2 linked regions of the Homo sapiens genome follow. The protein of the gene in region 1 interacts with the protein of each later gene in a pairwise test. Each region holds a gene or a part of one and is shown in the gene's direction. Other genes may lie near its edges. The genes, in order: VWC2 and PFKFB1.

Region 1 (3,823 bases):
TTTAACTTCTAAGGCTACATTGCCAACCAGGTCAGTGTTTTGTCTCAGGCTACACTAAAGTTTTTCAAAGTTTCCTTTCTTTTTTACATTTTTTTGGCCAAGTACACATACACACACTCCTTAGCCCTCACTCCCAGGCAGGTTGACTGTGGTCTAGTGCCTCAGAAAGAGACATGGTTAAACTCCAGTTGAGCTTTTGCTTCTCGTAATAGCCAGTCCACTCAGTGGAGATTTCAGTTTTTAGTGTTTGCATTGTATAGACAAAGGGAGCATCTGTGAGAGTTACTCATGTTCTTTACCTTACAAGCGGTATTTGTATCATGGACGTGGGGCACACAACTCAACTGGGGTCTCCCTGCCCCTGGCAAAGCAGGAACTCAGCTTGATACGACCCATTTCCATGTCCCCCATTTCCATGGTCTTTCTAGTGAGTATCCCCACTTCCCAGTTTTGCTTCTGATGGCTGGGTCTGCATATGCTCTTCCTGCTTTGTCCTGGGTCAGCCAGATCAAAAATCACTCCATTGGTGGTAACCAGGAGATAAATCACCATGCCCTGTGTGAGTGACCATGGAGGGTCCCGTTAGCCACGTACAGCTTTCTTGGGAATGGCTGGTATGCTTGATTTGGATAGCTCAAGAAGGCAGAGTATGAGCCCATGGCTGGAAAGTAGAGAGAGGCAAATGGAAGCTTGGTTTCTAACAGAGCATCGTGATGCTGGATAGTGGGCAGAATGACCTGGAGGAAATTGGAATCACCATGGACTCGCAGTCAGGAGCCCTCAGTGGAAGAGGACCTTGTGCTCACAGGACAGACATGCCCATGGCATGTTGCCTAACACCTCTGAGTCTCAGTTTCCTGTTAGTACAAAGGGTCAGTAATTTGAGTACGTGTATTTTAGCGCTGCTGTAAAAGTTCAGTGAGGGAATATTCATAGAGCTCCCGGCCCTTGGCCCCGCTTGGATGCCACCCTGTTTCTCCTCCTTCACCCCTTTCCCCTTTCCTATTCCAGTGTCTTCGTAACTGGAAACACTGGGAGTGTTCCATGTGAGTCTGGGTGGTGACTTGACAGGGTTATAGACAAGGGATTCACCTACGTGGTGAGGGGATGGGCAAGAACTCAGCAGCAAGTTTTTATTTGTTTAATTTTTAAAGAGATGAAAAACATTTCTTCAAAAAAAAGTTTAATAAGAAACCCAATATGCAGACCACAAATTAAACAGTGGCTCTGGCTGGACAGGAGAGGGAACATCATAGCCCTGTGGCCCGTCCTGTGCGTTTGCACCTAAGACAACTCACCAAACACCCAGCATGCCTGTGTCCACACTCTGAAAACCACTGGGCTGGATCATTTTTTAAACATTCCTAAAACACTTAGGTGTCTTCGCAGAAAGTTTAGGGAAAGAAAAGTATGACCCTGTAGGGCCAGGCTCACTCCTGTAATCCCAGCACTTTGGGAGGCTGAGGCGGGCAGATCACTTGAGGTCAGGAGTTCAAGACCAGCCTGGCCAACATGGTTAAACCCCATCTCTATAAAAAACACATAAATTAGCCAGGCATAGTGGTGGGTGCCTGTAATCCCAGCTACTCAGGAGGCTGAGGCAGCAGAATCGCTTGAACTCGGGAAACAGAGGTTGCGGTGAGCCGAGATCGCACCACTGCACTCCAGTGTGAGCGACAGAGCGAGACTCCATTTCAAAAAAATATATATGACCCTGTAGGATAAACATGACAGCAGGCTAAAGTGCTGATTGTGGGCTTGTGTTTCAGGTGTCTCCATGCGAGAGGTGTCGCTGTGAAGCCAACGGTGAGGTGCTATGCACAGTGTCAGCGTGTCCCCAGACGGAGTGTGTGGACCCTGTGTACGAGCCTGATCAGTGCTGTCCCATCTGCAAAAATGGTATGTGAGATCCCCGTTGGTGACGGGGTGCACCTCCCACCCTGATGCACAACCCATGTGCTGCTTCATGGTAGACGGGACACATACGGATACGTGAGTTTCATCCTATGTATCAATACACATGCGTACACACGTGTGTAATCTTTCAGCCACAGTGGTTCTGTAGCAAGGCCTTCTCTCTCTTACTGGCATCAGCACCATGTTTTATGGATGTTAAGAAGTTCTTTGGGGAGAAATTCAATTTCCACCTTTGAGGAGAGTCACTTATTTTAATTTAACTTTGTTTGTTCTTGCAAAGCTGTTTCTATCTTTCCAAGACACATTAAACACACTGGTTGGGCTCATTTACTTTTCATTACTAAGTGAATGAAACTTGGAACATAATTGAATATTTTTCATAAGCAAATTAGGCAGGAAGAGAGTCCCTTCCTATTCCCAGTGAGAGCCCCTGGTAGATCAGAAGCCTTGCTTACTTTATGAAAATGAAGTGGCAGGATGTCCTTGATCCTAATTTGTCATGGGAGAGTGTTTCCTCATCCTGACAAACGATGATTACTCTGTACCTGAGGTACTGAGGGCATTACACTATAAGACGGTTTTTGACAAGAGTGCATACCCAGGCTGGCTGGGCCTGAGAATTATGGCCCGGAGGGCAGTTTGACAAGAGGCTGAGCAGAGCTTGGGAAACAGCGGACAGAGGGGACACAGCCGGAGTCTACAAGGATCTGAGTGGCCTCGCTGACAGGAGCGACTGGGCTTTCTGGATGTTGCCCAGGGTATGCTGTGGGGACCCCTGGTTGAGAGCATTCAGAGCTAACTTGTGATGCTGTCGGCCGTTCATGTGGGTTGCTGGACCGAGGCTTGATAGCTGTGTGGCATGGGTTTGGTATGTGGCAGGCATGTGTTGGTGGATGGTGACACAGGGGTGGTCATGGTGCTCAGACAATTCCCAGAGTCTGTCATGACAGTCGAAATTGTGCGGGCCATGAGGTTCCATGGGTACCTTCGACCACGTACCTGTACATATCCAGATTTTACTACAACACATTGTAAAACTCTTGAGGTAAATAATTGGAAGAGGGAATGATGTTGCTGTTGAAGGATAGACCTGAAAGAACAAGATGACTGTGTTAGGAATGTCATAATCATTGTAGCATAGTACATCCAGTCCTCCAAAGGCAAGTGGACAGTGTTAAAACAAAGATGTCACAGAGTGTACTTTATATAGGGTTGGCTGGTCTCTTGTGCATGTTAATTATGAAGAAATCCTGAGGTAGGATTCCATTAGACAAGAACGAGGGGGACTTTGAGCATGGAGTGTGTTTTTTTTTTAAAAAAAAAAATGATGTTGAGACACCAGCTGTGAGATGGAGGGAAATCAATACAGTTTACTCTACTAGTGTTAATTACCACTAATTAACACTAATAAAGGGGGAAGAAGACTCTGGGATTGGGGAAGGAGAGGCAGATGGAGAATCTGGCAGAGTCTCGGTGTGGCTTTCAGCACACCCGCTGAGGAGCCCGAGTGAGCGCCTCTGGTCTGCTGGGAGAGCTGAGGGCTGGCGCTCAGGCCATGTGCCCTGCATGTCGGGGGTACTGGACGACAACAACTCTCACTGCGTCAAGGGGTTTAGTGAATGGCTTAAATATGGGTTGCTTAAATATTTGGCGTCTTAACTACCCAAGATATTCCATGTTTTTCCTGTAAATTTTGATTATAGACTAAGTCTTGGCATTAGATAGCCGGGAATCCTAGCTTGAGTGTTAACAATAGGTGAGAAGACAGGATTTCAACCCCTGGATTTTTTTTTCTTGCTTTTAGAGAAATTTCAAACCTACAGAAAAGTTGAAATAACTGTCCAGTGAACAATTGTATACCTTTAGCTACACCTGTTGCTAACACGTTGCCGTATTTGCTTTGTCT
Region 2 (3,823 bases), on another chromosome or scaffold:
GATCTGTTGCATTAATTGATTTTCAAAGGTTAAATCAAGCTTGCATTCCTATAATAAATCTAACTTGATTGTGATGTAAAAAGTATAAGTATAATATATACATATATATAATGTATACATATAAATCCTTTTATACATTCCTGGGTTCAGTTTGCTAGTGTTTTGTGGGGATTTTTACATCCATATTCACAACAGCTATTGGTCTATAATTTTCTTTTCTTCTAATATATGTGCCTAACTTTGGTAGCACGGAAATACTGGCCTCATAGAATGAGTTGGGAAGTGCTTCTTCCTCTTCTACTTTTTGAAAGAGCTTTTGAAGAATCGTATTATTCTTTAAATGTTTGTAGAATTCACCAGTGAAACCATCTAATCCTGGACTTTTCTTTCTGGCAAGGTTTTTCATTACTTATTCAACCCCTTGTTATAGATCTATTTAGATTTCATTTCTTTTTTAGTCAGTTTTGAGAGTTTGTATCATTCTAATAATTTATCTATTTCACCTAAGGCATTTATTGTGTTGGCATACAGTTTATGATTGTTCATAATATTCCCTTATAATTCTTTTTATTTTCATAAAGTCAGTAGTAATGTCTCCTCTTTTTTTCCTGAATTTATTAATTTGAGTTTTCTCTTTTTTTTCTTGGTCAGTCTCACTAAAGGTTTGTCAAGTTTATTAATTTTTTCAAATAACCAACTTTTGATTTTGTTGATTTTTTTCTAATGTTTTCCTAGTCTCTGTTTTATTATTTTCACCTCTAATCCTTATTATATCCTTCTTCTGTTTCCTTTAGGTTCCCATATTTGTGAATTTCCCAAAGTTCTCTCTGTTATTAATTTTTTATTTTACTCCATTATGATTGGAGAACATACTTTATATGATTTCCATTCTTCCAAATTTATTGAAGCTTCTTTTATGGCCTAGAATATTGTCTCTCTTGGAGCATGTTTGATGTACACTTTGGAAAAATGTATAGTCTGCTGTTTGGAGATGGAGTGTTTTACAGATGTTTGTTATTACTACTTTGTGTTGAAGTCCTCTATTTCCCTGTTGTTGATCTTCTATGTAGTTGTTCTATCCATTATTGAAAGAGTGGTCTTGAAGTTTCCAACTATTGTCAGTGGATTGTCTATTTCTCCCTTCAATTCTGCCAGTTTTGCTTCATGTATTTGGCAGCTCTGTTGTTTAGGCATATACGTTTATACTTGTGATATATTCATTATGGATTGACCCTTTTGTCATTATTGAATGTCCCTATATATCTCTAGTAATGTTTTTGAACATCCATTTTGTCTCATATTAGTATGGTCACTCCAAATTTCTTGTGGTTGTTGTTTGCATGATGTATTACTTACGTTATTTTACTTTTAATCTATTTGCTTCTTTCTCTTTTTTCTTCTTTCTTTTTTAGAATAGAGATGGAGTCTCACTATGTTGCCCAGGCTGGTCTCAAACTTCTGGACTCAAGGGATCCTCCCACCTTGGTTTCCCAAAGTGCTCGGATTATAGGCGTGAGCCACCAGGCCTGCCTTGTATCTTTCAGTCTAAAACCTATCTTCTGTAGGCAGCATGCAGTTGGATCTTGTTTGTTTGTATTCAGTTAGATATTCTCTACCTTTTGATTGGGTTGATTAATCTGTTCTGATTTAAAATCATTATTGATATAGTTGGTTTAAATATGCAGTTTTATTTTTCCATAGAGCTCATGTCTTTTTCTCTCTATTCTTCCTTTACTGCTTTCTTTTGCATTAAATGAATTATTCTAGTTTAACTTTTTAATTCATTTGATCATTTTTTATTATATATTTTTTAGGTATATTCTTCGTGGTTGTTCTAGGGCTTTTCACATACATCATACATCAGTGTGCTTCAGATTTGTACTAATTTAATTTCAATGAGATATAAAAATTTTACTCATATATAGCTCTCTTTCACCTTCCTTTTTGAGCTATTATAATATATATATTATATCTGTATATGCTAAAAACTAAATAATACATCATTATAAGTATTATTTTATATAATTTTATGTTTTAAGGAAGCTGAGAAAATTAAGGAGAACATGTATGTATTTATTATTTTCTATTATTTTCATTTGTTCCTGTGGGTTTGAATTACCTTCTGGTATCATTTCCTTATTTCTATATAACTCTTTGCTTTGTGACTTGGCTAGGCTATTTTTAAAGTATGTTTCCCTGCAGTGTGAACCCTTCAGTGTTGCTTCTTGGAGTGCATAGTTTTTGGCTTGCAGGTAATTTGGGCTTTCTTTGACTTTTTCCCAGTCTCTCTATTAAGCTGTCAGCCCACATGGGGGTATTACACTCTAGGCTCCACTAATTACTAGCTGAATGCTGTATTTTGTTTTTGTTTTTTGTTTGTTTGTTTGTTTGGCAGTGTCCTGAAGCATGCATTGCCCAGCAGCCTTATCTAATTAAACTCTAGCAGGAGTAGTTTGTGAAGTAAGTCTTGGAGGTTTCTTCATACCCCAGAAGGGCTCTTCTTACCTGTCCCTCTCTCTCTTGTTCTCTCTGATGAACAAGCTGGCCTATGTTGCTGTTAGTTAAGTGAACTTGTAGTTTTTGAGAACATCCTTGGGCTTGAGCTTCTTTGTACTATGTTAAAAATAAAGTTAGTTTTGGGGGGAGAGTTTCAGAGCTCTCTCATCTTATGAATTTCTTCTCTCCATGGGTATACTGTCTGAGCACTGTTCTGGGTGCTGGGCGAGACAGCAGCTTCTGGTCTTAGTTTGCCTATCCTGGTGTGGAACCTACCCTGTGAGCAAGATGGAATGAGGGTAATCAGGACCTCAGTATTCTTAGCCTATTGCACCTGGTATATAGCCTCCATTCTATGAGTAAAAACTGGGAGGAGGAAGGGATCCTCCAACCTCTTAACCACACTTGCCAGGAATTTAGCCTCTGCAATTCTGAGCTGAAGGGAATGCTAAATGCTAGCTCTCTGCTCCTTCCAGTAAGATGCCAAAGTATTGATGGGACATTCTCTCCAAGACGAAAGGGAGCTTCATCTTGGCTATACACACCTTAAGTGGAGCTTCTATCAAGCTAAGCTTGGAGCCAGTAGTGAGGGGACAGTAGTAAGGTCGGGAACAGTAGCATGGCACATGTATCAAAGACTGTGTTCTTACCACATTTCAGTAGATTTTCTTGAATAAAAATATCTTCATGTACTGTATTCCATTAAGACAATTTCCAGAGATTTTAAAAGGTTGTTGTGTTGTAATTTTGCCAGCTGAGCTTGTTTTATTAGAGAATGGGTCTTTAGAGCTCCTCATGCTGTCATGCCAGAAATGAAAGTCTCAAGATTGTCTTTGTGTGTTGATCTTGTATCTTGCAGCCTTGATGAACTCACTTGTTAGTTCGAGGAATTTCTGTAGTTTAGGGGGATATTTCTATGTAGACAATCATGACATTTGCAAATAGGGATTTTTTAAAAATTATTTTCCAAACCGTATGCCTTTTATTTCCTTTTATTGCCTTATTGCAGTGGTTAGAACTTCTAGTACTATGTCAAAAGAGTGGAGAAGGTGGAAATCCTTACATTAGTCCTGATGTTAGGGGGAAAGCATTTAGTCTTTCACTTTTAAGTATAATGTTGGTGATAGTTTTTGTTTGCTTTATAGAAGTTTCTTATCAAGTTGAACTTAAACAAATTTACAAGAAAAAAACAACCCTATTAAAAAGTGGGCAAAGGACATGAACAGACACTTTTCAAAAGAAGACACACATACAGCCAACAAGCATATGAAAAAATGCTCAACATCACTGATCATTAGGGAAATGCAAATCAAAGCCACAGTGAGAT

Evidence for each region.
Region 2: the proteins of VWC2 (region 1) and PFKFB1 interact in binary tests that used the Homo sapiens proteins (3 or more experiments, as listed by UniProt).

Annotation. Positions count from the first base shown.
Region 1 is NC_000007.14:49,800,942-49,804,764, forward strand, and holds part of VWC2 (brorin precursor), read left to right. Parts: intron 1-1,769; coding exon 1,770-1,899; intron 1,900-3,823. UniProt on the Homo sapiens protein: BMP antagonist which may play a role in neural development. Promotes cell adhesion.
Region 2 is NC_000023.11:54,983,879-54,987,701, reverse strand, and holds part of PFKFB1 (6-phosphofructo-2-kinase/fructose-2,6-bisphosphatase 1), read left to right. Parts: intron 1-3,823. UniProt on the Homo sapiens protein: Synthesis and degradation of fructose 2,6-bisphosphate.